Linked DNA regions of Homo sapiens. The protein of the gene in region 3 purifies or fractionates together with the protein of the main gene of each other region. This does not show direct contact. Each region holds a gene or a part of one and is shown on either strand. Other genes may lie near its edges. The genes, in order: RIOX2, IKBIP, RRP1 and TSR1.

Region 1 (7,592 bases), on a different chromosome or scaffold from region 3:
CCGCCCGGTGGTGGCAGAACTGCCTGTGCGAGCACGGCTTCCACGTGGGCTGCGCCGCCGGGCGTCATGTCGGGCCTAAGAGACACGCTCTACAGCTGTGAAATCTGAAGTTCAGGTGTGTGGGGAGAAGGGCAGCTGCATTACATCATATGCTTCCAATTCATTTACCAGCAAATAATTCCGCAACGATTGGCCGACAGCTGGGTTGTCCAACAGGTTACTGAGACCAGGTTATTCACTGTTTTCAGGAAGGATAGACTGGGAGGAAGAGGATCTGATTTCGCCACTCATTAGCTGTAAATCTGGTGCCTCGGGTTTCATGTCACTGGGCTCATCTTTGAGCAGAGGAACCTGATTTACTCAGCTTCTTCTGCTGGTACTGGTTTTTGCCTCCTGGACATCAAGCTTTGTAACCTCATGGTCACGAAAATACATTGAGGTATAGTCCGTTTCCTCTCTAAAATCAGACTAAAAAGATAACTGCTGATCACTCCTTTAGGTCAATAGGAGAACCAGTTTTCCCTCTGGATTGATTAACATATCTCTGAGCCAAAAAGAAATGTTTTAGATCAGTCTGGGCAACCTTGTTACAAGCAATATATAATTTCTGACAGCCGTGTGTTTAACTGAGCTGCGTTTGACTGTTGTCCTCCATTAGTGGACCTAAAATTCATCTAGAGAGCGTATTACGTTAATGCAGATTATGGGCCTCAGCCATCAGAAGTGGCAATCCAGTGGGCTTGATGAGGGCCCAGAAATTTGCATGCTAACAACCTTGCTGGTAACTCTGAACTACATTCTGTAAAACTGCCCAGGGGATGTAGAAATTCATACTTCCCTCCCCGATTTAGTAATAACTACTGATGTCTAAAGTGCCTTTTAGCTTTTACGATACTCTTGAATCCTGAAGTGACAGCTGCAATCAGAAAAATAATCCCCTCTGCACAGGCCATCTGTTTTTTCCGTAACTGTTTTGTGTAAGGCCTTTGTGGTTTGTCTCCAAAATTGTATACAGACAAAAGATGAAAATGTGAAAAATTCAGCAGACATTTCTTGAGGACCTCCTATGTACCACACCGTGCTTGTTTCCGGGGATATACAAATCCTTTCCTTCAAGAGCTTCCTCACGTCTTCATGTCCTCAAATATTATAGAAAAGGAGGTTAGGGTACCTTTAAAATATAGTGACTGTCTGTCTGTTGCCTATAGTATGGTTGTCAACATTGATTTTCTTATAGGGTTTATCTGTGGGGTAGTCACCAAAGTATGAACTGTAAATCTTTTAGTCTTTTTACATTTAATGCTTATAGTCAACTCAAATGGAAAACAATTGCTCTTCAAAAACTTTTCTGTGATTTTACAGAAATATTTACTCCTATTGGGGTGGTCTCTAAGGCTTATGGGCAAGGTTGTGTTGGCTGTACTATTCTAGACAAAGCATTGTCTTCTTTAATTACTATAGTATTGGATTCTAAGATATGTGTTTTACTTCTTGCTGTTTCCGAAATTATGATATGTACCTTAAGACTTTTGTATGTTTAATGTGGTAGGATGCTTCATCTATTCTCCCCTCTGCTCTAGAAAGCTGTTAAGAGGAATGGTTGTCTTACAGTATGAGTAGTGTGAGAATCAGAGAAATAATGTATTTGCCCAGAAACCTCTAAGCTTAGGCTCCAATTAACTGAGCCTCAAATCATTTCAACATGAACACAGAGAAACAAATGATGTAACTTTTGGCAGTATGGGTAGTGAAATTTATATTCTAAGGAAAGCATTTGTTATACAGTATTGGGGTTTGTTAGTGATTGTAGATGGGAAAGATTCTTTTAAGTGATTTTATTTTGGCTTAAGTGTTTTGCATTCTTTGATTAGCCACACTTTCTGGTGAATGTGCTTATACTGTATTCATATATTATGCTTAAAGAAAAGCTTTTCGTTTGCATCTTCCTCCTGCTCTCTCCCCTTAAATGAATTTTAAACTGACCAATTGTGAGAGATAAGAGATGTGTGGCTGAATATAAAATGACTCTATAGGGTGCCTTTAGTAATACAAACCTAATAAACCAATCTAAGTTTTTAAAAATTAAACGTGAGCAATGTGCTGTGGTCCCCAAGGCCATCTTTAGTTCAGCAATTTGCTAGGAGGACTCGGCTGATTTATTACAGGGAAAAGATATCAAGCACAGTCAGCAAAGGGAAGAGGCACATGGGTGAAGTTCTGGGGATACCAAGTGCAAGGCTCCAAGGGTCTTCGAGCGGTCACACTGGCTGTGCTCAGTTGCTCCAGCAACTAGTTGTGTCAACACTTGTGAAATGTTGCCAACCTGCGAAGCTTGTTAGAGACTCAGTGCCCAGGGCTTTTACTGGGGGCTTTTCACTTAGGCCACCCCTGCCTGGCACATACCAACGTTTCCAGACTCCCAGAGGAAAGCAGGTGTTGGTATAAACTGTAATGATTGTACATTTTAGGCATGGTGAGCCACTCCTATCAGTTAATGGTGGTGGAAACTCTCCCAAAATCTTAAGTTCTCAGACATCGGCCACAAGCTGCACTTTCAAAGGATAGCAGTCAGGCCTGCTATGGAACGTCTTCTGCATAAGCAGTACCCCTTCCCGAATCCATTTTTCTATCTCTTTGTATTTCTCCATCACTTGAGAGTTCCATGTACTAGCAATGCTGTGCCTTCCTGAAGCCTTAATTCTTTCCTGGAGAATTCAAGCTGGTCTGTTTCACTTAAAGGAAACATTTTCAGAAAATGTGTCTTACTGACCACATATCCTAAACACTAAAGTTTATTTTTTTTTTCTAAGCTTCAAGCTTTACCCCTCTCCTGTAGTATCAGTTTGTGTTAGTCTTCCACCATGTCCTGTGTTTCCTTATCAAAAGCACCTGGTCTTTTGAAGGAATGGAGCTGTTTAGAGGGTTTTATATTTTGACATTTCCTTTCTTAATTTGTTCAGTTTACATCTGGGTTTCAATCTAAAGTTTCTTTTATAAGTTGCAACACGTCACACAGTATGCAACACATCGTTCCAGGATGCTTACTTCCCAGGCCAGAACATTAATTCCACTTAGTCTACAGTGTAGCTGAAATACTGCTTAGTTATAATGACAAAAGAACAGAAAACAGTATTCTTGCAATTCTGATAACTCACCAAAGTAGGAAACTATACCATTTATAAATAACAAGTCTTTCAGAAATTTTGGTTTTTATAAGTACAGTGGTTCTTAACCTTGTCAGGAGATAGGGACTTCCTTAAGAATCTGTTGAAAGTGATGGAGTCCCTTCCCAGAGGGAAAGGACTTTAAGATAGAATTTTGCAGTCTCAGGAAATTTAAATAATTTGAATTACAGTTCTTGGAAACAGATGAGGGAAACCTACCCTCTAAGTATCAATAGTTGTGGTTTGGAGGCAGTTCTGAAGGAGCTTTGCAAGGCTTGGCTGTGTGGCTTCGACTACTCAGCAGTGTCAGCAGCAGAAGCATCACCTGGGAGCCTGTTAGAAATGCAGAACCTCAGGCTTCACCTTGGAGCTAGTGGATCATATCCTGCATTTTATTGAGATGCTAAGGTGATCTGTGTGCACATTAAAGTTGGAGAAGTGCTGTGTTAGGGGCTAATGATATTGGTATTATTTAAAATCTTCAGTTAAAAAGTTATAGTTTTTTCAAGGCTTTAGATATAACTACTTTTAGCCTTCACTTTTCAGCCTTTAGGGGCTTTATTTCTTTAAACGAAGGGGAGTTTCTGATAAAAGTGGCCGTTTTCAGGAATAAGCTCAGAGTTGGAAGTGAGCAGGTTCAGGTGGTTAGTGGAGACAGGAGAAGGCAGTGGCCTGCTCCAGCCACCAGGAGACACCGCGGGTCCAGGGCGCATTGATTGACCTGCGCAACAGTTGGGGTGGTGCTGCGGTGAGGAGCACCTGGCAGTGGGCGGCTGTTAGTTTTTCTCTAGTCAAATGTTTGTAACTCAGAGTACATCTAATTAGATGTGGGCCCTGATGCTGATGGGAGCCAAATCCAAGATATTTGACTTTGCTGTGTCAGTGGCCACAGGCTAAACCTGTGAGTAGGAACTGCTGAGACAGTTGAATAGGTTTATTTGGGATAATTATACTGCCTAATAAATAATACCATGACATAGTGCTTGTGTAAAAGAAAAACACGTTCTTCTTTAGATGAATATGTCATCTGAGTGGTGGTTGAGCTTGAATCATATCTTAGAAGAAATGGCATTGGCTTAAGGCTGTCTCCTATCCTGGGGGAAGTAGCTTTGACCTATGAAGAGTTCTCACGAAGGTGTAATGGTCATTCAGTTGTGTGTGCGCGCGATCCACTAACACCAATGCTGGCACTCCTTGTAAACCTAACCATGTGTGTTTTGTTCTTTTGGTAGGTTTGCATTTCCTTACTGCTTTGTCTTGAAGACAGAACGATGCCAAAGAAAGCAAAGCCTACAGGGAGTGGGAAGGAAGAGGGGCCGGCTCCCTGTAAGCAGATGAAGTTAGAAGCAGCTGGGGGGCCTTCAGCTTTAAACTTTGACAGTCCCAGTAGTCTCTTTGAAAGTTTAATCTCGCCCATCAAGACAGAGACTTTTTTCAAGGAATTCTGGGAGCAGAAGCCCCTTCTCATTCAGAGAGATGACCCTGCACTGGCCACATACTATGGGTCCCTGTTCAAGCTAACAGATCTGAAGAGTCTGTGCAGCCGGGGGATGTACTATGGAAGAGATGTGAATGTCTGCCGGTGTGTCAATGGGAAGAAGAAGGTTTTAAATAAAGATGGCAAAGCACACTTTCTTCAGCTGAGAAAAGATTTTGATCAGAAAAGGGCAACGATTCAGTTTCACCAACCTCAGAGATTTAAGGTAACCAGTTTCCCCATTGCAGAATCCTCATACATTTTAAAGTACTAACATTTGGCCACATATCAGCTCAAGGGTGAATACGTAGTTTGATGATGGTTAGTCTCTTGCCAGTTTGAGAAGGGGTAGCACCTCTTTGGTCTAAATGCATTCTAACTAGGATTAAGATTATGTGTTATGTTTGGTTGGACTGTTAGAAACTCCAGCAACTCAGGGTAGACATTGTTGGGTATCATTGAGCTGCAAAACTAATTATACTGCAAGTTTATAAAGTTGTTAAAGTGGCACTACAACTGCAGGAGTATGTTCTGTGAGCCAGTTTATGTTTTTCTATATGATAGACATTTCTATTTGGTTTGTCACATCACTGTAATTTAAGGCATGACAGCATCAAGGTGATCATTTTTTCCCGAAGTTGCTTCCCTTTACTGCCTGCATCTAAATGGAGGCTTCAGAGCCATGACCAGATCACATGCTAGATGCAAGTCCAATAAAGAGACTTCACCCTTAATAACACCCGAATGGGTGACATTGAGGTACCTGGAACTGCTCCTGGTAAGGCTTCATAGGTGGAGGAAATCTTTGCTTTGCAAATGCAGAGGATTGGCAAATTTTTAAATTTTTTTCTATATCAGGGATTGACATTTGGGAAATAATTTGCCTCCTCTATGCTTGGTTTCTACATTTATAAAATGCAGATTTAGTATGAACTAATTTGTTTTCCTCAAGGTTTGAGATCTGTATCTCATCTCATGACAGATGGCCCAGAATAGGTGAGGGGCTGTTCTGAATTTTAGATAAACTTTTATCCCCATTCAGAAACCCCCTTCTGTGACCCTTCATTAAATCAAAATGGCAACATAGGAGGAGAAAGAGAGGGGTTTGTGAGGTTCCATGTTGAGAGGAATGGATTCTGGCTTTATTGATGGCTTCTGGGGCTCTGTCGTCAGTTACCAATAGTGTTTCCAGTGATTTAACTTGAGGTGGCTTGTTATATCCCATTGGGCTTCATCTGGTGAATGCCCTTCCCTTTCTTTCTTGTCTAAAAGATCTTGAACCTATTCATACTCTGTATGAGGTATGAGTGCTCTTAGATTTTTCAAGATGAGTCCTGATTCCAGCTATTCCATCTCAAGCAATCATACAAAGTTGAAATGTCCCTGAAATGCTAACCTTGTGGCCTAGGCACTCAAAAAGAATTTACAAATCATTTGTCAGACCAAGTTATGATTTGAATTCAGAAAATATGGACACCGTCAATAAAATGCTTCTCGCTGAGCTAGTCCTTGACTAGAAGTAGCACTTTTAAGAGTGGTTTTTAGAAACCTGAGAACTCTAAACATAAATGAATTCAGTGAATTTGATTACGTGTACTTTGGTCATAGACCAGCAGAGAGATGATATTTGGCATATGTGTGGTATCCACTGTGGCTGTCATTTCTCTACTTTAGAATCATCCCCCGCAGGGCTTTTCTCTGCTCATCCACTTAAGTGCTGCACATTCCTCGTCTGGGATTCCAGTGTCCAAGAACCTGTTTCTTTTGCCTTGTTGACTAGGCTCTGGCTGAGTTTATTAAAGCAGGAAGGATGAGCTTTCTCAGCCCAAATTCAGCCCTCAGGCCAGACTAGGATGTGCCTTTTTTTTTTTTTTTTGAGACAGAGTCTTGCTCTGTTGCCCAGGCTGGAGTACAGTGGCACGATCTCGGCTCACTGCAACCTCTGCCTCCTGGGTTCAAGTGATCCTTCTGCCTCAGTCCCCCTAGTAGCTGGGATTACAGGCACATACCACCATGCCTGGCTAATTTTTGTGTTTTTAGTAGAGACAGGGTTTCGCCATGTTGGCCAGGCTGGTCTCGAACTTCTGCCCTCAGGTGATCCACCCGCCTCAGCTTCCCAAAGTGCTGGGATTACAGGCGTGAGCCACTGTGCTGGGCCTTTTTTTTTTTTTTTTTTTAATCTCTTTGTACCACCCGTGCTGGAGAGACCTATAAGCCATAGGAGCTCACCGTCTTACACTAGAGTCTGGATTCTAAGTGCTATATTATAAGGTGGTTTGGCATTGTGTGTGTTTCTTTAGTAATGGGCATATTAACGTCAGAACAGAGGAAGTCTAGAAGGAGTTTATCCCTGGCCAGGTTGAGAGACTGTTAGAGTGAACATGCAGCCCTTTGTTTATTGGGTCTCAGACTGTGCACAGCTTATTAGTATAGTTAGTTTAAAAACGAGTAAGGAGGTAACCAGGGAGCCATAATAAGTTGTTTGGACTTGCTTTCAGTAATCCATATATTAAAAGTCCTGGTGAGAGGAATTATCACAATTATTTGCATTTTGCTTAGCAGGCTAGAGTTTACCAAGTAATTTCATATATTTTAACTTTTGAGCTTTCTAACAGGCATTTGAAATAGGGCAGCTTTTGTTCCATTTTCTTTTTTTTCTTTCCTTCTTTTTTTTTTTTTTTTTTTTTTTTTAAGACAGAGTCTTGCCCTGTCACCCAGGCTGGAGTGCAGTGACGCAATCTCGGCTCACTACAACCTCCGCCTCCTGGGTTCAAGCAATTCTCCTGCCTTGGACCTCCTGAGTAGCTGGGATTACAGGTGCATGCCACTATGCCCGGCTAATTTTTGTATTTTTTTTTTTAGTAGAGATGGGGGTTTCACCATGTTGGCCAGGCTGGCCTTGAACTCCTGATCTTGTGATCCACCTGCCTCGGCCTCCCAAAATGCTGGGA
Region 2 (7,592 bases), on a different chromosome or scaffold from region 3:
TTACTCAGAAAAGTCTTTCACCTCTCCATTAATCCTTGGGATCTTTAAATGATTGCCTTTCAGTGGAAATGAATTTCACAAAACATGGTCAGTCAGTATGGTTCTAAGTTTGGCTGTGCACTTAGATTACCTGAGAAGCTGTTGAGTTTCCAACATCCAAGCCACATCCCAAGCCAATTAAATCAGAATCTTTGTGAGACCCAGGCATCAGATTTGTTAAAGCTGCCAGGTTATTACAATATGTAGCAAAGCTTTTGAACCACTTGTCTCAGGACTGTGTTTAGGCAGGTACTTATGGTTCTGCTCCATTGCGTTTTGATGACTCAATATGCAAAGAATTTCAAGTGTTTTTTTCTGAGCCTAAAGAATTGAGTTAAAGTAGACAAAATGGTATTGGATCCAAGACAATTCTTTTATGCTTGCTCATTTCAAATCCTGTATAAACAGATGTTGATTTGTTGTTTTGAAGATTGAGATAGCTTTTTGGGCTTCCACCCATAATGAAGAATAAACTCCAATTTTAGAGTGACATCTCAAGTACACCTATACGAGTCACATCACTGAGTATAACCAATTGTGCAGTTTATACACTCTGCACTGATTGTGATCTATTGTCACTTTGGCAATGGCTTTTTTCTATTTTCATACCTCTTTTCACACCTCCTGCTATTTTGCAACTTCTAATTACTATCACTTCTCTCTTCTACTCCACTGCTTTTTATCAGTCAACTCTTCTACATTTCAGTTTTAAAATACTTTTTATAGACGACTCTTGTTTCGCCTACATTTCAGCATAAAAACACCTATTTTCTAGATATTACCCAATCATGGCCTTGTGAAAAACAGTAGAGATCAAAGATCTTGTTCTAAATTTTTCACTTTGTCCTCCTCTAAAATATTTCTTGTGCATGCATCTATTACAGATATCACACCATCTTATTTGGTGGGCTGTGAATTGTGAACAAGGGCAGTGCTTTACTCATCTTTGCATGAGTTAAACCAGTACCTACCACATGAAAATCTGTCAAAAGAAACTGATAAAAGCTGCATCTAGGCTGGACATGTTGACCCACACTTGTAATCCCAGCGCTTTGGGAGGCTGAGGGGAGGATCACTTGAGGCCAGGAATTCAAGACCACCTTGGGGCTGGGCACAGTGGCTCATGCCTGTAATCCTAGCACTTTGGGAGGCCAAGGCGGGCAGATCACTGGTCAGGAGTTCAAAACCAGCCTAGCCAACATGGTGAAACCCCATCTCTACTAAAAATATTAAAAAATTGGTGGGGCGTGGTGGCAGGTGCCTTTAATCCCAGCTACTTGGGAGGCTGAGGAGGAGAATCGCTTGAACCCAGGAGGCAAAGGTTGCAGTGAACCGAGATCGTGCCATTGCACTCCAGCCTGGGCAACAAGAGCAAAACTCCATCTAAAAAAAAAAAAAAATACCGGGCGTGGTGGCTCACGCCTGTAATCCCAGCACTTTGGGAGGCCAAGGCAGGTGGATCACAAGGTCAGGAGATCGAGAGCATCCTGGCTAACACAGTGAAACCCCGTCTTTACTAAAAATACAAAAAATTAGCCAGGCGTGGTGGCAGGCGCCTGTAGTCGTAGCTACTCGGGAGGCTGAGGCAGGAGAATAGCGTGAACCCAGGAGGCGGAGCTTGCAGTGAGCCTAGATCGCGCCACTGCACTCCAGCCTGGGCGACAGAGTGAGACTCCATCTCAAAAAAAAAAAAAAAAAGGCTAAAGACCACCTTTGGCAACATAGCGAGATGGACAGTCCTAGCTATTTGGGAGGTTGAAGTAAGAGGATCACTTGAGCCCAGGAGTTCAAGGCTGCAGTGAGCTATGATTGTGACACTGCATTCCAGCCTGGGTGACAGAGTGAGACCCTGTGTGAAAAAAAAAAAAAAAAAACCTACAGCTACCCATACCAGAATTTATGTTGTTCTTAACAGAAGTGGGTATAATTCTCCTTTGAAATTCGGATTTAAATGGATATGAATTGGAGAATAGTGATTTTTCTTTTCTTTTCCAGGTTTGTATTTCAGCAGTCAGAAAAATTTGCAAAGGTGGAAAACCAATACCAGTTACTGAAACTAGAAACCAATGAATTCCAACAACTTCAAAGTAAAATCAGTTTAATTTCAGAAAAGGTAATCATTAATTGGCTTATCTGGGACGGTTTTCCCATTTTACTACCCCACTATCATTTCTCTATCCCAGCTCAGAACTTCTTTCTTCCTGCCTTTTAGACCATCACTATTTTAACTCTCACTGATCTTCCTACCTCTTGACATTCTCCCTCTGAGCCATTTTGACTCAGATTGCATTTTGAGGGGCAAGGATTTTTTAATATGATAATTTCTAGTATTGAAAAAGACCAATTTGTTCATATTAGCATGATGTTAATTTTCTACTTAAGTGTCAGGTATCTAGAGCATTGAAAATATGGTTGATCATGTCTACAGCCATACCACCCTGAATGCGCTCGATCTCATCTGAAAATATGGTTGATCTTTGGACATAAAATTAGAATATGAATAGCACTTATTGGGAAAAGATCTATCCATTTTTTCCCTTACTTTTTGCTTTTTAAGGATATATGTACATGCATTTAAGAATGGCTAGCCTAGGCTGGGAGTAGTGGCTCATGCCTTTAATCCCAGCACTGTGGGAGGCTGAGCCAGGCAAATCACTTGAGGTCAGGAGTTAGGAGACCAGCCTGGCCAACATGGTGAAACCCCATCTCTAGTAAAAATACAAAAATTAGCTGGGCGTGGTGCACACGCCTGTAATCCCAGCTACTCGGGGGGCTGAGACAGAAGAATCTCTTGAACCTGGGAGGTGGAGGTTGCAGTGAGCCAAGATCACACCACTGCACTGTAGCCTGGGCTATAGAGCGAGGATCCGTCTCAAAAAAAAAAAAAAAAAAAAAAAAGAATTAAAAAAAAAAGAACGGCTAGCCTAAAAGTAACTATTTGTCCTGTAGCCAAATAAGAATTCCAATGAAAATTAAAATAATACCATGTCTATATTGTGTTCCTTCAAGTTGCTGATTTCTACCAGATGCGTTATTACTGTGATTCTTAGAAATGTGAGACAAATAAACATTTTTGTAACTCCCACACCTCTCAGGAGAAAGTCAAAGTCAGCTGTGATCAATAAGGCATCATGTAGGCCTATTCTGGGTACCAGGGACCAAGCTATCATTGGGAAATATGGCTTTTTGTTCATTTATTCATTCACTAAACCTTTGCTCATGTCACAAGGTAAGCAAGGACCTATGCTTGGCACCAGGGTGGGTAAGGATGTTGTAAAAATAGAGATGAAATGGAGCATCTAAGTCCCTGCAGCCCCATGCACAGGATGAGCATATAATCCTCCAGAAGAGAAAAGCCATGGAGGAAAATTAAGTATCCCTCACAAATGCCAGGGGATTCCATGGATGGTGAGTGTAAGGGATTTGGGGAAGGAGCTGCAAAGGAGTTGGTATTTTCACATAGGGCTCAAATTGGAATCTGAGCCAGGCGTAGTGGCTCATGCCTGTAATCCCAGCACTTTGGGAGGCCAAGGCAGGCGGATCACCTTGAGGTCAGGAGTTCGAGACCAGATTGGCCAACATGGCGAAACCCTGTCTCTACTAAAAATACAAAAATATTAGCTGAGCATGGTGGTTCATGCCTGTAATCCCAGCTACTTGGGAGGCTGATGTATGAGAATTGCTTGAACCTGGGAGGCAGAGGTTTCAGAAGTGAGCTGAGATCATACCACTGCACTCCAGCCTGGGCAACAGAGTGAGACTCTGTCCCAAAAAAAAAAAAAAAAAAATTGGAATCTGGTTGTAGCTGTTGGGGGAACTCTAACATACCATTAGAAGAAATCCCAGGGGCAAGAAACTTCATATATATATATATATATATATATATATATATATATTTTTTTTTTTTTTTTTTTTTTTTTTTTTTCAGATAGAGTCTCTCCCTGTCATCCCAGCTCTCACTCTGTCATCCAGGCTGGAGTGCAGTGTTGGAATAACAGCTCAACCTCCCAGGCTCAAGCACTCCTCCCAACTCAGCCTCCCAAGTAACTGGGACTAACAGGCACGCCACTGCACCCAGCTAATTTTTTTTTCTTTAATTTTTTGGAGAGACGGGGTCTTGCTACATTGCCCAGGCTGGTATCAAACTCCTGGCCTCAAATGACCTTTCTGCCTCTGCCTCCCAAAGAATTGATATTACAAGTGTGAGCCACTGTGCCTTGCCAAAACTTCACATATTTAATTAAAAGCTATTGAAGGCCGGACGCGGTGGCTCACGCCTGTAATCCCAGCACACTGGGAGGCCGAAGCAGGCAGATCACGAGGTCAGGAGTTTGAGATCAGCCTGGCCAACATGGTGAAACCCCATCTCTACTAAAAATACAAAAATTAGCTGGGCGTGGTGGCGGGCGCCTGTAATCCCAGCTACTCGGGAGGCTGAGGCAGGAGAATCACTTGAACCTGGGAGGTGGAGATTGCAGTGAGCTGAGATCACGCCATTGTGCTCCAGCCTGGGCAACAGAGTGAGACTCCATCTCAATAAATAAATAAATATAAATAAAAGCTATTGAAAACTTATTTTGAACAAGATTTCTCCTTTTTTTTTTTCTTTTTTTTTTTGTGGGGGAGGTCAGGGGTGGTACAGAGTTTCACTTTTCTCATCCAGGCTGGAGTACAATGGCTCGATCTTGTCTCACTGCAACCTCCGCCTCCCGGGTTCAAGTGATTCTCCTGCCTCAGCCTCCCGAGTAGCTGGGACTACAGGTGTGTACCACCACACCCGTCTAATTTTTGTATTTTTGGTAGAGACGGGGTTTCACCATGTTGGCCAGGCTGGGCACGGTGGTTCACACCTGTAATCCCAGCACTTTGAGGGGCCGAGGTGGGTGGATCACCTGAGGTCAGGAGTTCAAGACCAGCCTGGCCAACATGATGAAACCCCATCTCTACTAAAAACACAAAAATTAGCTGGGCATGGTAGCGTGTGTCTGTAGTCCCAGCTACTCAGGAGGCTGAGGCAGGAGAATCGCTTAAACCGGGGAGGCAGAGGTCACAGTGAGCCGAGATTGCACCACTGCACTCCAGCCTGGGCAACAAAGTGAGACTCCATCTCAAAAAAAAAGCTTTTGAAGCAGATTTTTAAAATATCATTATAGAATCCAAAAAATATTCAGTCTTGGCCAGGCGTGGTGGCTCACACCTGTAATCCCAGCACTTTGGGAGGCCAAGGCAGGTGGATCACCTGAGGTCAGAAGTTCAGGACCAGCCTGACCAACATGGAAAAACCCCATCTCTACTAAAAGTACAAAAAATTACCTGGGCATGATGGTGCATGCCTGTAATCCCAGCTACTCGGGAGGCTGAGGTAGGAGAATTACTTGAACCTGGGAGGTGGAGGTTGTGGTGAGCCGAGATCATGCCATTGCACTCCAGCCTGGGCAACAAGAGCGAAACTCCGTCTCAAAAAAAAAAATGAAAAGAAAAAAAAGAAATATTCAGTCTTTTCGTAGCTTTTTCTCCCATTCTGCCCTGGGAGTAATTTAATAAGAGGTCCCTTTTCACAAAGGTGGCCCTAAAGGGCAGCATAACCCAGATGGAGGGGAAAACAGCTAGACATGGACACCCATCCCAACTGTGTGACCTTAGACAAATCACTATAACTTATCTTCATCTCTATTTCATCATTTATTAAGTGAGAAATAATAAGATTTTTATAAAGATCAGATGAGATATACAGTAAGTCCTCAACGTCATCAATAGGTTCCTGGTCATCAATAGGTTCCTGGAAACTACGATTTTAAGTGAAGTGTATAATGAAACCAATTTTTTTCTCATCTACGTTGTAATGAAAGGACATCGAAACAACGTTGTTGGAGGAGCTGCTCTGAATAGTTCCACTTAAAGTCAGTTTCCAAGAACCTACCAATGACGTTAAGTGAGGACTTACTTTATATACAAATTCTTTGAAAACAATCAAGCACTAATAAAGTACTAGCTCTTTTTTTTTTTTTTTTTTTTTTTTTTTTTTTTTTTTTGCCCAGGCTCTTGTTGCCCAGGCTGGAGTGCAGTGGGGAGATCTGGTCACTGCAACCTCTGCCTCCTGGGTTCAAGCAATTCTCCTGCCTCAGCCTCCCAAGTAGCTGGGATTACAGGCATGTGCCAACATACCCGGCTAATTTTTTGTATTTTTAGTAGACATGGGGTTTCACTGTGTTAGCCAGGATGGTCTCAATCTCCCGACCTCAGGTGGTCCACCCGCCTCAGCCTCCCAAAGTGCTGGGATTACAGGTGTGAGCCACCGCACCTGGCCCTACTAGCTCTTTCTTTAAGAAAAAATGAGACCCGGTGTGGTGGCTTATGCCTGTAATCTCAGCACTTTGGGAAGCTAAGTTGGGAGCATCACTTGAGCCTGGCAGTTTGAGACCAGCCCAGGCAACATGGTGAGACCCCATCTCTACAAAAAAAATTTTTTTAGTAAATAAAAATGAAAAACGATTAGAATATGTTGGTGGCCCATAAATGCTAGCTACTGTGGCATACTAGTCACTAAATATTTGCAGATTAAATCTATAACATCTTGCACTTACTTGGGGTATACTGCTTTCAGATTATAGTGAGGCTCTGATGAACCTCCTAAACAGGACATTACCTTAGGTGAGGATAAGCTTGCCTCTTCAAAATACTGCTAATAAAACAACTAAACCTAACCATGTTAATGGTTAGTATTTCTCATAATTGATTTTAAAAGGAACTTGTATTATGGCTGTATGTGTACATTTAAAAGAGGTTTTTATTTCTTTGGATTTTTTTGTTTGTTTTCTTTAAATGTGTGTGTGTGTATGTATGTATGTTTGAGACAGGGTCTTGCCCGGTCACCAAGGATGGAATGCAGTGGCATGATCATAGCTCACTGCAACCCTGAACTCTTGGGCTCAAGGAATCCTCCCACCTCAGCCTCCCAAGTAGCTGGGACTACAGGCGCACACCACCATGCCCAACTAATTTTGTTTGTTTGTTTGTTTGTTTGTTTGTTTGATAGAGACAGGGTCTTGCTTTGTGCCCAGGCTGGTCTCAAACTCCTAGGCTCAAGCAGTCCTTCTGCCTTGGCATCCCAACATGTTGGGATTAAGGCGTAAGCCACCATGCCCAACCCTTAAAATAAATTTTAAACAACATTTCAGAGTGGTGTTAGTCATTCTTGTTGCATACTCTTTAAGTCTTGATTGGGGTGGACCTAGAAGGCTTAGGGTCATTCTTCCTAAGCATCAACAAACATATTCTTTGTACTCTGAGATGTAGGGATTACACAGAGGCATAAGACATGGTCTCTTCTCCTTTGAAATTTAGAAGCTTTCACATCTTCACCCTGCTAATTCATCAATCAGTCTGTTAATGATTCCAATTTTGGAGCCACTTCCAGGCCTTTTCGCATTGCCCTCCTAACTTTTTATCTCTCCTCAAAGCATCCATTGCCCCCTGTGCTAATTCTTTTGTGACGCTACTTATAATCTACTGTGATTTTTTTGGTTGCTAGTTTATCTCCTTTACTCCTCTTT
Region 3 (7,592 bases):
AATGGAGTATGGTGCCTGATACCTTGTAGATCTCAGTCGGTTTTACTGTGTGCGTGAAGTAGCAGTTACCTGGAGTAGCCGCATAGCCACAGGCGCGGCAGGTTCTGGGTTAGAAGGATTGTTTGAAGGGGAGGGCCAGATTCTGCCCCCCAGTTGCCTTTACCGTAAGTGGGACTTTGGTCTCATTCAGGCAGTCACGTTTCTGTGGCTTCCTTTCTGGCACTCGAAGGTGTGGGATTCATTTGGTCCAACCGTTGCTGTTTTGATGCAGGTGGTTTTACGCACGACGAGCTGCTGAAGGTGTGGAAAGGACTGTTTTATTGCATGTGGATGCAGGACAAGCCACTCCTCCAGGTGAGTGGGGGGAGCAGCAGAGCAGGTACAGAAGCAGCGGGGGAGGATGGATGGGCATCTGGTCAACCCAGTTTTTCTTTTTTTTTTAAGTCGGAGTTTCGCTCTTGTTGCCCAGGCTGGAGTGCAGTGGCTCAATCTCGGCTTACTGCAACCTCAGCCTTCTGGTTTCAAGCAATTTTCCTGCCTCAGCCTCCCAAGTAGCTGGGAGTACAGGTACCTGCCACCATGCCTGGCTAATTTTTTGTATTTTTAGTAGAGACAGAGTTTCATCATGTTGGTCAGGCTGGTCTCGAACTCCTGAGCTCAAGTGATCCTCCCATCTCGGCCTCCCAAAGTGCTGGGATTACAGGCATGAGCCACCGCGCCCGGCCTGGTCAACCCAGTTTTAATATGGCCAGAGACCGTGGGGAGGTCGTATAGCCTTGACGCTTGGTTCGGCACGGCTGGTGGGCCTGGGCCTTTGTTAGGTGAGTCTTACACTTGCTGAGGTGTTGATGTGATTGACTGAGCCGTGCACTGCAGCAGCACTGGCATGGGTGAAAACTGGGTTTTGTGTTTGTCCTGGGTTGCAAACAAGTGCTGAAATAGTGGAAACCACGGGGCGGAATTCAAGTCTCCTGAGACAAGGACGTCTCCTGCTAGCCTTTTCCAAACATTGTTTCTCAAATTGTGAATTTTGTGCTCTCCTTCAAAATCTCCTGGGTGGTGAGGGTACTTAGTTAAGTTCAGGTTCCTGGGCCATATTCCATGCCCACTGAATTATCAAGGGGAGGCTGTGAAATGTCCCTTAGCAAGTATTCTGGGCGATGGCTGGCACGGTGATGTAGGCAGATAGCCAGTGATCTATGGGGTCTCGCAGCCCTCTTCCTCCTGATGGTTAGGGGGCTGTGAGTCCCAAGGCTCCCTTCCGCTCTCCCACGTCCCTCTTTAACCGTGACTCTGTGGCTTAGGGCACAGCCTCTGTCAAGAGGGCAGTGCCTGCTGTGGTTGTGTGAGAGGCTGTTGACCCCAGCTGTCTAGAGGGGCCTCCCGTGGTTGTGTGAGAGCCTGTTGACCCTGGCTGTAGAGGGGTCTTTTGGAGCAGGGGTGAAACCTCCAGTGCACTGAGCTGAGACCCCCTGGAAGCCGACTCTCTGTGATGAGTGAGTGAGTGAGTGGGTGAGTGGGTGGTTGCGTGTGTGTCATTGTGAGAGCCTGGTGCTTCAGGGGCTGAGGGCGTTTTTGTTGTTTCCTACACAGGAAGAATTAGGAAGGACTATTTCCCAGCTCGTTCATGCTTTTCAGACCACGGAGGCGCGTGAGTATGCTCTGCTGTAGTTGGGTGCATTTGTAGATGTCAGAACCTCTGAGCATCAGAGCCACCAGACCCAGGAGGTTTGTGTTCTCAAATCCAGAGTAAGGAATGCCTAAGGGCAAGAGAGCGCCAGCTGGTGTCTGTGGGTGCTTAGCATGTGTGCAGTGCTGGTGTAAGTATTCAACATGGATTAGCTCATTTACCCAAAACCCTCATTTCGAGCCTAATGGGCTAATATCTTACACTTTAAAAATAAAGTGAAAAGCCAGGATAATGTCACCAAGAGATTGGACTGAATTCCGCCTGATGGTCCTGAGGTTCCTGCAGTTGATTTTTCTGACTCCTCTGTTCTCTGGTGACCGGAGTTGAGAAGTTCTTACCCTGCCTGTCTGTAGGACTCACTTGAGGAGCCTCTAAAAATCCTCATGTCCAGATCCTGGTCCAGCAAGATCCAGTTCTGGGGGTAGGGCCTGGGCATCAGCATTTTTTATCTATAGCTATGTAAAGAACGGGTTCCTCCATGTTCTCACCTCCCTCCCCAGAGTGGCTTCGTGCTCCTCAGTGGTTCTCTTCTGGCTTATTCCTTCTCCAGAGCACCTGTTCCTTCAGGCCTTCTGGCAGACCATGAATCGCGAGTGGACGGGCATTGACAGGCTGCGCCTGGATAAATTCTACATGGTGAGGCAGCCACCAGGGTGCCGGCGGGCGGGGGCAGCGCGGGTCTCAGTGCCTGGCCAAGCGAGACAGGCGGCACCTGGGCAGGGAGGCAACCTGAGGCAGTGCGACCCTGAAGCCAGGGGTGGGAGGTGGAGCCGAGACTCTGGGCGGTCCCTGACCAGGGCTCTGCAGCTTTGTCCAGTCTCTGAGGGTCATTGAATGGGCAAGGAATTCGACCCTTAAAACACCACACAAACTTTTGGTTCAGAGAAGGAAAGTGACGATTGCTCTCCTGGTGAGAGTCGATGGTGACACCGTTGTTACCTTGTCAAAGAGGCAGAGTGAGTCTGGAGGCGCAGCAGAGGAGCTGCGGTCACGCCCTAGCATGAGCCCTGGAGTGCTTAGCCTGCGAGGCTGGGATGGATGGTCACAGTGTGGGACTTCCTTTCCCTCCTCCCTCATTGTATCCCCGTTCAGGGCACTGATTTGCCCTGAGAATACAGGGGAACACTGGGGTTTAGAGGTGCAGCGTGTTGCTGCCCGGACCTGCTTCTCTCCTTCCCTCCTTCCCTCTTGTTGAACCATGAGGTCTCGTTACTAAGGTGGTGGTCATTGTAACCTTAGAGCAGGCCTGAGATACAGGGACATTGTCACTGTGTAGGAGTCGGTCACCCAATGGGGACACTGAAAGGGGCCATGTCCGGGTCTCACTGAGGACAGATGTTGATCTGCCACTCTGGCTTCAGTGTCCAGCTCAGATTCGGGCCAGGATTGTGCAGACAGCATATATACCAGTGATTCTAGAAGTGGAGACCAGGGCGGGAAAGGCCTGGAGCTCAAGAAGGAAGGAGGCTCCAGGGCAGGCCAGGGGCCCGGCCATGCACTCAGACAGAGTGCAGACTCTTAGGGACAATGGGGCTCTGCAGGGAGGCCACCCTACTGTTTTGCTGAGATGTGGCTGCTGGGTCCCTGGATGGATGCGTTCTGCTGCTTTCCATGGCTCGTTTCTGGGTGCCCCTTGTGTGGCTGAGTCCAGCAGCACAGCCTTGCGTCAGGGCTAGCCTCGGTGGCACCGCAGGGTGTTGTGGGGGATAGGCCTCCTGTGTCTGCAAGAACAGTGTCCGGGCTGCTGGGCTGTGCTCTGTCATCGGGGCTCCTGGGGGTCCGCGTGTCCTCTGCTGCTACTGACTGCAGCTCAGACCCCACTCTGGGCGTGTGGGCATGCTGGGTCAGTAGCCTAAAGGGGGGACAACTGCAGAAGGGTGTTGAGCCCCATGGAGGGAAATGGCATTGTTGATTCACGGGTGAGGCTTGGCGGGAGGGCCTTCGCTGTGTAGTGGACCGCAGAGGAAGTGAGCTACATTCTGCCCGTTGCGGGGGGTTTGGTGAGGACCAGCCGTGTTTCAGACCTGGTTTTGCGGAGGGCTCCACCGCCCGTGGGGGTAGCCGTGCCTCTTTCCTGGTTCTCCCTTATGAATCGGACTGTTCCGTTTCAGCCCCGGTTTATGGACTGGAGTCGTAGGACTGTCCCCTATTACCCCCGACCCCCCATGCACCTGCTTCCTGCCAGCTGGGGCCTTGGAGCCGGGGATAGGGCATGTTCTCAGCCCAGGGTTCTGAGGGCTTGGTGGTGTGTCCTCCAGCGTCTGTCTGTCAGCAGCTCTGGGGGCCGGCTGTGTGCTGGGGCCGGCAGAGGTCACCACGGCCATGACTTTATCCTGCAGCGGATGGTGGTACATGGGGATGGGTGGTCTGGCGAAGTAGGGCTGGGCTTCTGCTAATGCCAACCTCCTTCTGTGTCAAAGCTCATGCGGATGGTCCTGAACGAGTCCTTGAAGGTTCTGAAGATGCAAGGCTGGGAAGAAAGGTGGGTGCGCGGCGGGCCTGCTCTGGGGGGACGCTGTTCTCGGGGACCGCAGTCGTGTTTGTCATTTGATTCTTTGCCATAAGGAGATGTCAGCCTTTATATTAACGCATGCCCCCAATCGTGCTTAGAGAGAAGATAGTTTTTAAAGTAAAAATCAGTTTGTGTGTTTGTGGAAATGATGCCATTTATCCTCAGGCTTGGAGGCCAGTTCTCACTGGGAGTCAGAAGGGAGTTTTTTAATGAAAGGGTGTCCAGCCGAGGAGCTTCTTATAAAAACACGGCATGTTCCGCTTCATTAGCAATGCTTTTTGTTTTTTTGAAATAGGTGTCACTGTTGCCTAGGCTGGAGTGCAGTGGCGTGATCTTGGCTCAACTACAGCCTTGACCTCCCGGGCTCAAGTGATCCTCCTGCCTCAGCCGCCCAACTGGCTGGGACTGCAGATGTGCACCACCAGGCCCACGTAATTTTTGTATCTTTTTTTGGTAGAGACGAGTTCTGTCCTGTTGCCCAGGCTTGTCTCAAACTCTTGGGCTCAAACAATCTGCCTGCCTAGGCCTCCCAAGTTGTAAGCAATGTTAATTGCTCCTAATTCTAAAAATATGTAAATTGGCTGGGCGCGGTGGCTCACATCTGTAATCCCAGCACTTTGGGAGGCCGAGGCGGGCAGATCACAAGGTCAAGAGATCGAGACCATCCTGGCCACCATGGTGAAACCGTGTCTCTACTAAAAGTACAAAAATTAGATAAATGCATAGAAAAGAATTAGCAGGCTGGTTATGGTGGGTTAAGGGGATCTCTTGAGCCCAGGAGTTTGAGGCTGCAGTGATCTGTGACTGAGCCACTGCACTCTAGCCTAGGTGATAGAGTGAGATTCTGGTTTTTTGTTTTTTTTTTTTAAAGAATCAGCAGGAATTGAACTGTGGCTGCTGAGTTTCTCTAGGTTTGAGTTGCATGGGTGATTTTGCATTTAGGGCAGCGGTGCCTCTGGTTTGGAGGGATTTTCATTCTTCTATTCCCTGGCAGGACTCTGATGCCAGGAGTCTCATTCATTCTGGGCCTTAGCATTGTGGATTACCCCATAGGGGTCTCATGGCTTAAGCTGAATTAAATGTTAAAGGGATGATTTTACTTGTGTTAACTTTTTTTGGCATATTATTACAAGAGTACTTTTCTCCCTGTAACTGAGAATTCAGCACAGGAATCATGTGGAAGACCTCGGTGCCTTCCCCCAATGCCTGCTGCGGTCCCAGTGCTGACAGTGGGGTCCGCTCTTCCCGCCCTCTTGGATCTCCTGCAGGCATAACCAGGCTGTCATTAATATCCACGCCATTGCCACTGGCCTGGGAAGTCGGTCCCTTGCATCTGTGTGTCTTCCTCTTGGTCTCAGCACCTGTTCTTGCCTCTGTCTCGTTTTTCCTGAGCCTTAGAGAGCATCACTTTTCCTTTCCATCACGAGTGATTCTCCAGCCTTGCTACGGAGCTTCCTAAGGATCACACAGTTTACAGATCTGAGTTAGGCAGCTGCGTTATTAAGCACCCCAGGAGGTCCAGATGCATGTAGGTGCTACACATTATTCTCTGGGGCTGTCTAGTCTTCAGATCCAGGGCCTGTGATGCCATCAAACCCGCCTGCCAGGGAGAGCTCTGGTGGACGTCACAGTTGGAATGCGTCGTGCGGCAGGGCCCAGGAAGCCAGCAGGTGGCTCATGGTCCTCGGCCCCTTTCTGGGCCTCCACCTTCCTTTCTCTGCCTGTGCTGTCCTGACGTGTCTTCCCCAGCGGTACCCAGTGGAGGCAGTGGAGAGGAACACCAGGCAGGGCGTCTCGTCTCAGCCAAGCCTTTCTCTCTGCTAGCAATCTTGAGGACAGAGGGAAGGCCTGTCTGAATGTTTACACGTGCTGCATTTTGTAGCTGACATGCACACTCAGGCCATACGTTCTGGTGGTGGTGCTGGTCACATAACTCCCTAACTGCAAGACTGCCTTGCGCTGGAGGAGACCTAGGATCGTTGATATCATCTGCGTGGACTTTAAGGCTGGCATGTTTGCAGACAGTGGCGCCTGCCCGCACTTAGGTTCCCATCAGAGCGTGTAACCATGGGAGAGTGGGGGGCACGGCTGTCTTGGGGCTCATCGAGGCTGCCTGTCATGTTTGCTTTTTCTTTCCTCAGACAGATCGAGGAGCTGCTAGAGCTGCTGATGACTGAGATCCTGCACCCCAGCAGCCAGGCCCCCAACGGTGTGAAGAGCCACTTCATCGAGATCTTCCTGGAGGAGCTGACCAAAGTGGGCGCCGAGGAGGTGAGGCTGGGCTCCGACGGGGCGGTGGAGCTGGGCGTTTGTGGAGGAGGAACTGAGCTCCCGCTGGCTTTCCCCGTAGCTTACGGCAGACCAGAACCTGAAGTTCATCGACCCCTTCTGCAGAATTGCTGCCCGGACCAAGGAGTAAGTGGTGGGTGGCCTGATCGGGCCCGACTCCTTCACTGAGTTCTTCCATGGGGCTGCTGTTGTGGGGGTGCTGCTCCCTCGAGGGATGAATCTGTCTCAGAGTGGCCGCTGGCCGTGTGGGTGGGGAGAGGTTGCAGGGGAGTCGGCGGCTTCCGCTTGGGAATCCAGCATAACGGGCCTGCTCACCGGCCTCTGCTCTGCCCCTCAGTTCCTTGGTTTTGAACAACATCACTCGAGGCATCTTTGAGACGATTGTGGAGCAGGCCCCGCTTGCCATTGAAGACCTCCTGAATGAACTGGACACACAGGATGAGGAGGTGGCGTCGGACAGTGATGAGTCCTCTGAGGGTGGTGAGCGTGGAGACGCGCTGTCCCAGAAGAGGTCTGAGAAGCCGCCCGCAGGTGGGGGTCACACTGCGCCTGGCTTCTCCTCGGGGCCTGTCCTGGGCTGAGCCAGTGCGATCTCCTGCTGGGTTGCTCCTGCCACCTCCTACCTGGTCCCCTTGTCTCTGCCCCTCTCCACAGTCCATCCTCAGCATAGAAGCCAGAGTGACTTCTGTGGGCACCAAGCACACGTCGTTTCCCCTCATCCCCCAGCCTCTGATGTGCTCCACGCCCTCTCCGGACCCCTGGGCTCCTCGGTCTAACGCATGCCTCTGGCTCAGTTGGCCCCCTAGACTCGTTCCTGCCTTGGTGCCGAGTCTCTCCGTCCCTCCCACCGTCTCTCCCCCCATCACTCTCTGGGGCTGGACTCTTTCAGCCTCCTGGCCTCTCCCAGCCCCCAACGCAGTCCTCCCCATAGCGTCACTCTGTGGCACGGGATGTGAATCACTTGCTCCTCGTGTTCCTCGTTCCTGGCCCGTCTCCCCAGAGGACAGCAAGCTCTGTCCATATTGACCATGACTGGGTTCAGGCCTGAGACCTCAGGGCACCTGACTGCTCTGTGTGCAGTGTGTGTGAGGGGCAGGTGTA
Region 4 (6,373 bases), on a different chromosome or scaffold from region 3:
TAAAAAAGTTACTGATCAGGCACCTGCAATTCCAGCTATTCGGGAGCCTGAGGCAGAAGAATCACTTGAACCTGGGAGGTGGAGGTTGCAGTGAGCAGAGATGGCACCATTGTACTCCAGCCTGGGCAACAAGAGCGAGACACCATCTCAAAATAAATAAATAAATAAAAAGTTACTGATACAGCCTGGCGCGGTGGCTCACGCCTGTAATCCCAGCACTTTGGGAGATTGAGGTGGGTGGATCACAAGGTGAGGAGTTCGAGACCAGCCTGGCCAACATGGTGAAACCCGGTCTCTACTAAAAATACAAAAATTAGCCGGGCGTGGTGGCATGTGCCTGTAATCCCAGCTACTCAGGAGGCTGAGGCAGGAGAACTGCTTGAACCCGGGAGGCAGAGGTTGCAGTCAGCTGAGATCACACCATTGCATTCCAGCCTGGGTGACAGGAACGATACTCAAACTCAAAAAAAAAGAAAAAAAAAAAGTTACTGATAGGACTAGATCGTATCTTTTAGGTGCATTGAGGCAGCGAAAATTTTTGAGAACTGGTGGTTTAGAGAAGTAGAAGCTGCCATAGGTTTAAGAGTTGCACTAATACAGCTTTTCACAGGCCTCTATCACCTCTGGTTTCTCAAAATGGTTTTGCTTTTCATTTTTTAACCCTTATGGCAGCGGACAAACATAAATTGCAGAGATTCCTGACTGCTGACATGGCCCTGGTGGCGACAGTCTATGCGCCAATCACTTTTCCTCCTGCATCTGTGCTGCTTTTCAAGCAAAAAAGCAATGGTAAGTTGAGCCACAGAGATGAACAGACCCTGCAGGTCCTTAATAGATGAACACCGTTTTCTCTTGTTTATTTAAATTTGGGAGCCAAATGGTATGGAGAAGGTAATGATGGTTTTCAAAATACAGTAAGTCTTCATTTAACATTGTTAATAGAACAATGAAAACTCCAACTTTTACGTGAAACAGTGTATAGCCAGTCCTCAAATAACTGCCTTTTGTTCAACATCCTTTCCTTGTAACAACTGATGAGAAAAAGTATGGTTTTGTTATACATCATTTCTCTTGAAGTACAAGTTTTCAAGAACCTATTGACAAGGTTAAGTGTGGGCTTACAGTTTACCAATCTTAGCCTCAGATTGGGCTAGGGCAGGGATGACAAACCAGGCTCTTGCATGGGTCTTTAAATGGACTGGGCAATAAATGAAGACTTTGGCCTGTAAATTCCTAAATAGCTTCTTTGCTTTTGTCCTTTAGGAATGCACAGCCTCATTGCTACAGGCCATCTTATGTCAGTAGATCCAGACAGAATGGTCATCAAGAGAGTTGTTCTGAGTGGTCATCCTTTCAAAATTTTTACTAAGATGGCAGTAGTACGTTACATGTTCTTCAACAGAGGTGGGTATGAAGGAGGAGGATGGGATCTGATTGCCTTTGTGGTATAAAGGTTGGGTTTACATTTTGTGGGTAAATGTTTCATCTTGGTCTTTAATGTGTTTGATTCTAAGAGGATGTGCTGTGGTTTAAACCAGTGGAACTGAGAACGAAGTGGGGCCGGAGAGGACATATCAAGGAACCTTTAGGTAAGGAAACACGGGATTTGAGACCATGTCTGCATTTCTGCAGTGTTGCTAAATGACTGTTGGGTTGGAAGTCATTGCTTTAAAATTTTCTACTTTTAATTTGACCGACTTGTTCTGATGTCTTTCTAGGTACCCATGGCCACATGAAATGCAGCTTTGATGGGAAGCTAAAATCTCAAGACACAGTACTGATGAACCTGTATAAACGAGTCTTCCCCAAATGGACTTATGATCCATATGTACCAGAACCAGTACCCTGGCTGAAAAGTGAGATTTCTTCAACAGTGCCTCAAGGGGGCATGGAGTAATGGATTCAAAGAGATTCTGTCTTACCGGTGCCAGTCAGTACTCCAGGGATGGGAGGCACAAGTTGTGATTGGGCAAAGTTTATTTTCTATGTCAGCCTGTCAGTCCACTGCCCCATTTTGCAAGACTTTTTTTTAGCCTTGACAAAATGTCTCAGTTAAGTATAAAAGTTTTTCCACTACTTAGTCCAAAAAAAACTATTAAATCTTAATGAAATAGCCACTCTCCATTAAGAATCTGATAACTAAGAGTTGACAATACTAGGAAACAAAATGTCTTCAGTATCTAAAGACACTGAATTCCCACCATTTCCTTTTCTGTAAATTAAACAGAAACAGACTGATAAGAAGCTGGCCTTTCAGCCTGCTTCACCCAAGTTATGGAGGAGGTTAAGTCTACATTTCCACCACTGAGCACAATACAAATGTTCTTTACTTCTGGGGAAACAGTTTGAAAATGTTGAGACAGCACAGCAGCCACTCCAACACCAGCTGTAGGTTCAATGAGTAGTTTCATCCTCTCCCACACCAGCTGGGTTGCACACTGTTGATATGGAAGGGAGTAGGAATTAGTGAAAGGGGAGTCTAGTTGGTTTACCTATAAAGTTCAGATGAGAATACGTGTCCAGTTTGAATTTTCTTATCACTGTGTACACACGCTTCCCAAAGCTTTTCTTTAATTCTGACTCTGCTTCTGTCAAGAGGGTTGTCATTAATACATCTAGGGTACCCTCCCATGTCATGAAGTTACCTAGTCAGGTTCCCGTGGGTCACTTGCTACTCCTAAGGGAAGTTTCTTCTGCCTAAGAAGTTACACCATGCTTTGCTATTTCTTTTCTTGCTGGAGCCTCACCTTAATTTCATCCTCTGTGACAGTGAAGATATCATCCACAAGGTCCCTGATAATAGGCCAGGTGTTCAAGCCAATGCTGGATTTGACACCATCTGCTATGGTTTCTGGAGGATAAAGATTGGGCATCAGTTTCCCCTTCAGCTTGGACTGGTAGCAGTCATCTGCATTTGAGGGTTCAGCAGCATATACCTTCACACTAGGTTTCAGAGCCTGGGAAGAGGAATATTAAGACATCTTAACAACAAACCACAACATTGCCTGCATGTCTAAAAGAAAATATGGGCCTGGTGTGGTGGCTCACACCTGTAATCCCAACACTTTGGGAGCCCGAGGCGGGTGGATCAGCTGAGGTCAGGAGTTCAAGACCAGCCTGGCCAACCTGGTGAAATGCAGTGTCAACTAAAAATAGGAAAATCAGCCAGGCGTGGTGGCAGACCCCTGTAATCCCAGCTACTCAAGAGGCTGAGGTAGGAGAATCACTTGAACTTGGGAGGGGTAGGTTGCAGTGAGCTGAGATCACACCAAAATGGGGTGGGGCGCAGTGGCTCACGCCTGTAATCCCAGCACTTTGGGAGGCCGAGGTGGGCGGATCACGAGGTAGGGAGATCAAGACCATCCTGGCTAACACGGTGAAACCCCGTCTCTACTAAAAATACAAAAAAAAAAAACAAAAAAAAACTAGCCAGGCATGGTGGCAGGCACCTGTAGTCCCAGCTACTCGGGAGGCAGAGGCAGGAGAATGGCGTGAACCTGGGAGGTGGAGCTTGCAGTGAGCCAAGATCGTGCCACTGCACTCCAGCCTGGGTGACAGAGTGAGACTCCGTCTCAAAAAAAAAAAGAAAATAGGCACAATAAGTAATACATTTCTGCCCAAGTAAGAGCCTTCCCTTTTGTGGATGTAATGAAAATATCTTCAAGCACTTTATAAATAAATTATATGTCTGATACTAGCCTTCCATTGCCTGGATCACATCTGATTGTCCTGGTAATTTGAGAAAAGGGTAGCCCCTTGGTATGGATAGTAGCTTGATGACATGGAATTCAGGGAAAAGACTATGATGGTGTCACTTGTAACTGCTTTTGTGCTGTAAAATTGTCATGGATTAAGAAGAGAGTTGGCTGGGTGCGGTGGCTCACACCTGTAATCCTAGCACTTTGGGAGGCCAAAGTAAGGACTGCTTGAGCCCAGGAGTTCCAGACCAACCTGGCCAACACAGCAAGACCCCATCTCTTAAAAAAAATAAAAATATTAGAAATAATAAATAGGCCGGGCGCAGTGGCTCACGCCTGTAATCCCAACACTTTGGGAGGCCAAGGCGGGTGGATCGCAAGGTCAGGAGTTCAAGACCAGCCTGACCAACATGGTGAAACCCTGTCTCTACTAAAAAAAATACAAAAAAATTAGCGGGGTGTGGTGGCTCATGCCTGTAATCCCAGCTACTCAGGAGGCTGAGACAGGAGAATCGCTTGAACCCGGGAGGTGGAGGCTGCAGTGGGCCAGGATCGTGCCACTGCACTCCAGCCTGGGCAACAGCGAGAATCTGTCTCAAAAAATAATAATAATAGTAAATAGAGTAGTGAGGCAGAGATGGGCCTTCATCTCAAGTCCCAAAGGAATAAGGGGAAGGAATGGTAATGTGTGCAGAATGTTGAGCACGTGTATACAGAACATTTAGGATGTAAAGTAAATCCTCTGCTTGAAGCAGGGAATCCTCCAGAAGCTGCTCACCTTAACTGTAATTGCTATTCCAGCAAGCATTCCTCCTCCACCTACAGGTACCACCAGTGCATCCACCAAAGGAACCTTTAGTGAAAATATAAACTGTAAGCAGTTTTATATTTAATGTATACATATAAAATAATTGAATATAGCCCAACAGCTTTACCAGTAGCTAAACAGGAAGAACTCAGCTATTTTACCTGGTTCAGCACTTCCAGGGCAATTGTCCCTTGTCCAGCTATCACTGCAGGCTCCTGGTTGGGATGTACCATGATGCCTTCTGTTTCTTCTGTAACTCTTTTTGCAACATTTTCTCTGGACTGAAAGTACATTAATTTAGCTTAATTGATTTGTATTTAATAGAGTCCCCAACAAGTTCCATTTGGTCATTCAGCATTTTATTGACCATCTACTTTTTTCACACTTTGTTCAGGTACTAGAGATATATATGTTAATAAAATATCCCTGCCCTCAAGCACGTTATATTGTATGGTAGAGATGGATGAAGTAAATATATGGTATGTCTAAGTGCAATGGAGTAAAATGAAGGAATTTATTTCATATAGGGTAGCCAAGAAGAGCCTCTAGTAAAGTGACATTTTAAAAGATCTGAACAAGTGCTGTGGATGTCTAGAATATTCCAGAGAGGGGGTAACAGTGCAAAGACTACAAAGTAGGAGTGCTTGGCCTTTCTGAGGAACAGCTAAAAAGGTTAGTATGGCTGGCACAGAGTGGGCAAGAGAAATAATAGAAGATGAGGTCAAGGCTGGGTGCAGTGGCTGACACCTATAATCCCAGCACTCTGGGAGGCCAAGGTGGGCAGATCACTTCAGGTCAGGAGTTCAAGACCAGCCTTGCCAACACGGCAAAACCCCGTCTCTACTAAAAATACAAAAATTAGCCAGATGTGGTGGCACGCGCCTGTAATCCCAGCTACTCTGGTGGCTGAGGCATGAGAATCTCTTGAACCCAGGAAGCGGAGGCTGCAGGGAGCTGAGAAGAAACTACCGCACTCCAGCCTGGGTTGGACAGAGTGAGACCCTGTCTCAAAATAAATAAAAAGAAGATGAGGGACCAGGCACGGTGGCTCACACTTGTAATCCCAGCACTTTGGGAGGCCAAGGCGGGCAGATCACGAGGTCAGGAGTTCGAGACCAGCCTGGCCAATATGGTGAAACCCTGTCTGTACTAAAGAATCAAAAATTAGCTGGGCATGGTGGCACGCGCCTGTAGTCCCAGCTACTCGGGAGGCTGAGGCAGAAGAATCGCTTGAACCCAGGAGGCGGAGGTTGCAGTGAGCCGAGATTGTGCCGCTGCACTCCAGCCTGGGAGACGGGGAGATTCTGTCTAAAAAAAAAAAAAAAAAAAAAAAAAGATGAGAGATGAGGTCAGAAAGATAGGAATGTTTGAGTTTATCCAGGGATTAGATGATTGCAAGAACTCTCGTTTCCACCGTGTATGAGATGGGAAACCAACAGAGGATTTAGACTTGAAAAGAGACAAGTTCTGGCCAGGCGTGGTGGCTCACGCCTGTAATCCCAGCACTTTGGGAGGCCGAGGTGGGTGGATCACGAGGTCAGGAGATCGAGACCATCCTGGCTAACACAGTGAAACCCCGTCTCTACTAAAAATAGAAAAAATTAGCTGGGCATGGTGGCAGGCGCCTGTAGTCCCAGCTACTCGGGAGGCTGAGGCAAGAGAATCGCTGGAACCCAGGAGGCGGGGCTTGCAGTGAGCCAAGATGGCACCACTGCACTCCAGCTTGGGCGACAGAGCAAGACTCCGCCTCAAAAAAAAAAAAAAAGAAGAGACAAGTTCTGACTTTATTAAATGGAGACCTCTGGTTGCTCAAAAAAGCCTGTAGTGTGGCAAGGGTGGATGCAGAGAGACCAGTTTGGCTACTGAA

The links.
Region 1: the proteins of RRP1 (region 3) and RIOX2 purify together in Homo sapiens (affinity purification with mass spectrometry, with the first as the bait; one large-scale study listed by BioGRID). This does not show direct contact.
Region 2: the proteins of RRP1 (region 3) and IKBIP purify together in Homo sapiens (co-immunoprecipitation; one large-scale study listed by IntAct). This does not show direct contact.
Region 4: the proteins of RRP1 (region 3) and TSR1 purify together in Homo sapiens (co-immunoprecipitation; one large-scale study listed by IntAct). This does not show direct contact.

The regions. Positions count from the first base shown.
Region 1 is NC_000003.12:97,964,437-97,972,028, reverse strand, and holds part of RIOX2 (ribosomal oxygenase 2), read left to right. Parts: exon of another isoform or gene 1-439; intron 440-4,396; 5' UTR 4,397-4,435; coding exon 4,436-4,867; intron 4,868-7,592. UniProt on the Homo sapiens protein: Oxygenase that can act as both a histone lysine demethylase and a ribosomal histidine hydroxylase. Is involved in the demethylation of trimethylated 'Lys-9' on histone H3 (H3K9me3), leading to an increase in ribosomal RNA expression.
Region 2 is NC_000012.12:98,628,856-98,636,447, reverse strand, and holds part of IKBIP (inhibitor of nuclear factor kappa-B kinase-interacting protein), read left to right. Parts: intron 1-2,034; coding exon 2,035-2,152; intron 2,153-7,592. UniProt on the Homo sapiens protein: Target of p53/TP53 with pro-apoptotic function.
Region 3 is NC_000021.9:43,791,079-43,798,670, forward strand, and holds part of RRP1 (ribosomal RNA processing protein 1 homolog A), read left to right. Parts: intron 1-271; coding exon 272-354; intron 355-1,593; coding exon 1,594-1,651; intron 1,652-2,240; coding exon 2,241-2,326; intron 2,327-4,110; coding exon 4,111-4,172; intron 4,173-6,343; coding exon 6,344-6,473; intron 6,474-6,552; coding exon 6,553-6,617; intron 6,618-6,828; coding exon 6,829-7,022; intron 7,023-7,592. UniProt on the Homo sapiens protein: Plays a critical role in the generation of 28S rRNA.
Region 4 is NC_000017.11:2,319,720-2,326,092, reverse strand, and holds the end of TSR1 (pre-rRNA-processing protein TSR1 homolog), read left to right. Parts: intron 1-672; coding exon 673-789; intron 790-828; exon of another isoform or gene 829-1,263; coding exon 1,264-1,404; exon of another isoform or gene 1,405-1,514; coding exon 1,515-1,589; exon of another isoform or gene 1,590-1,718; coding exon 1,719-1,897; 3' UTR 1,898-2,219; coding exon of another isoform or gene 2,220-2,438; 3' UTR 2,439-2,747; coding exon of another isoform or gene 2,748-2,957; 3' UTR 2,958-3,697; downstream 3,698-6,373. Other genes in the region: SRR (serine racemase), read right to left, coding at 2,220-2,438, 2,748-2,957, 4,477-4,551, 4,668-4,787. UniProt on the Homo sapiens protein: Required during maturation of the 40S ribosomal subunit in the nucleolus.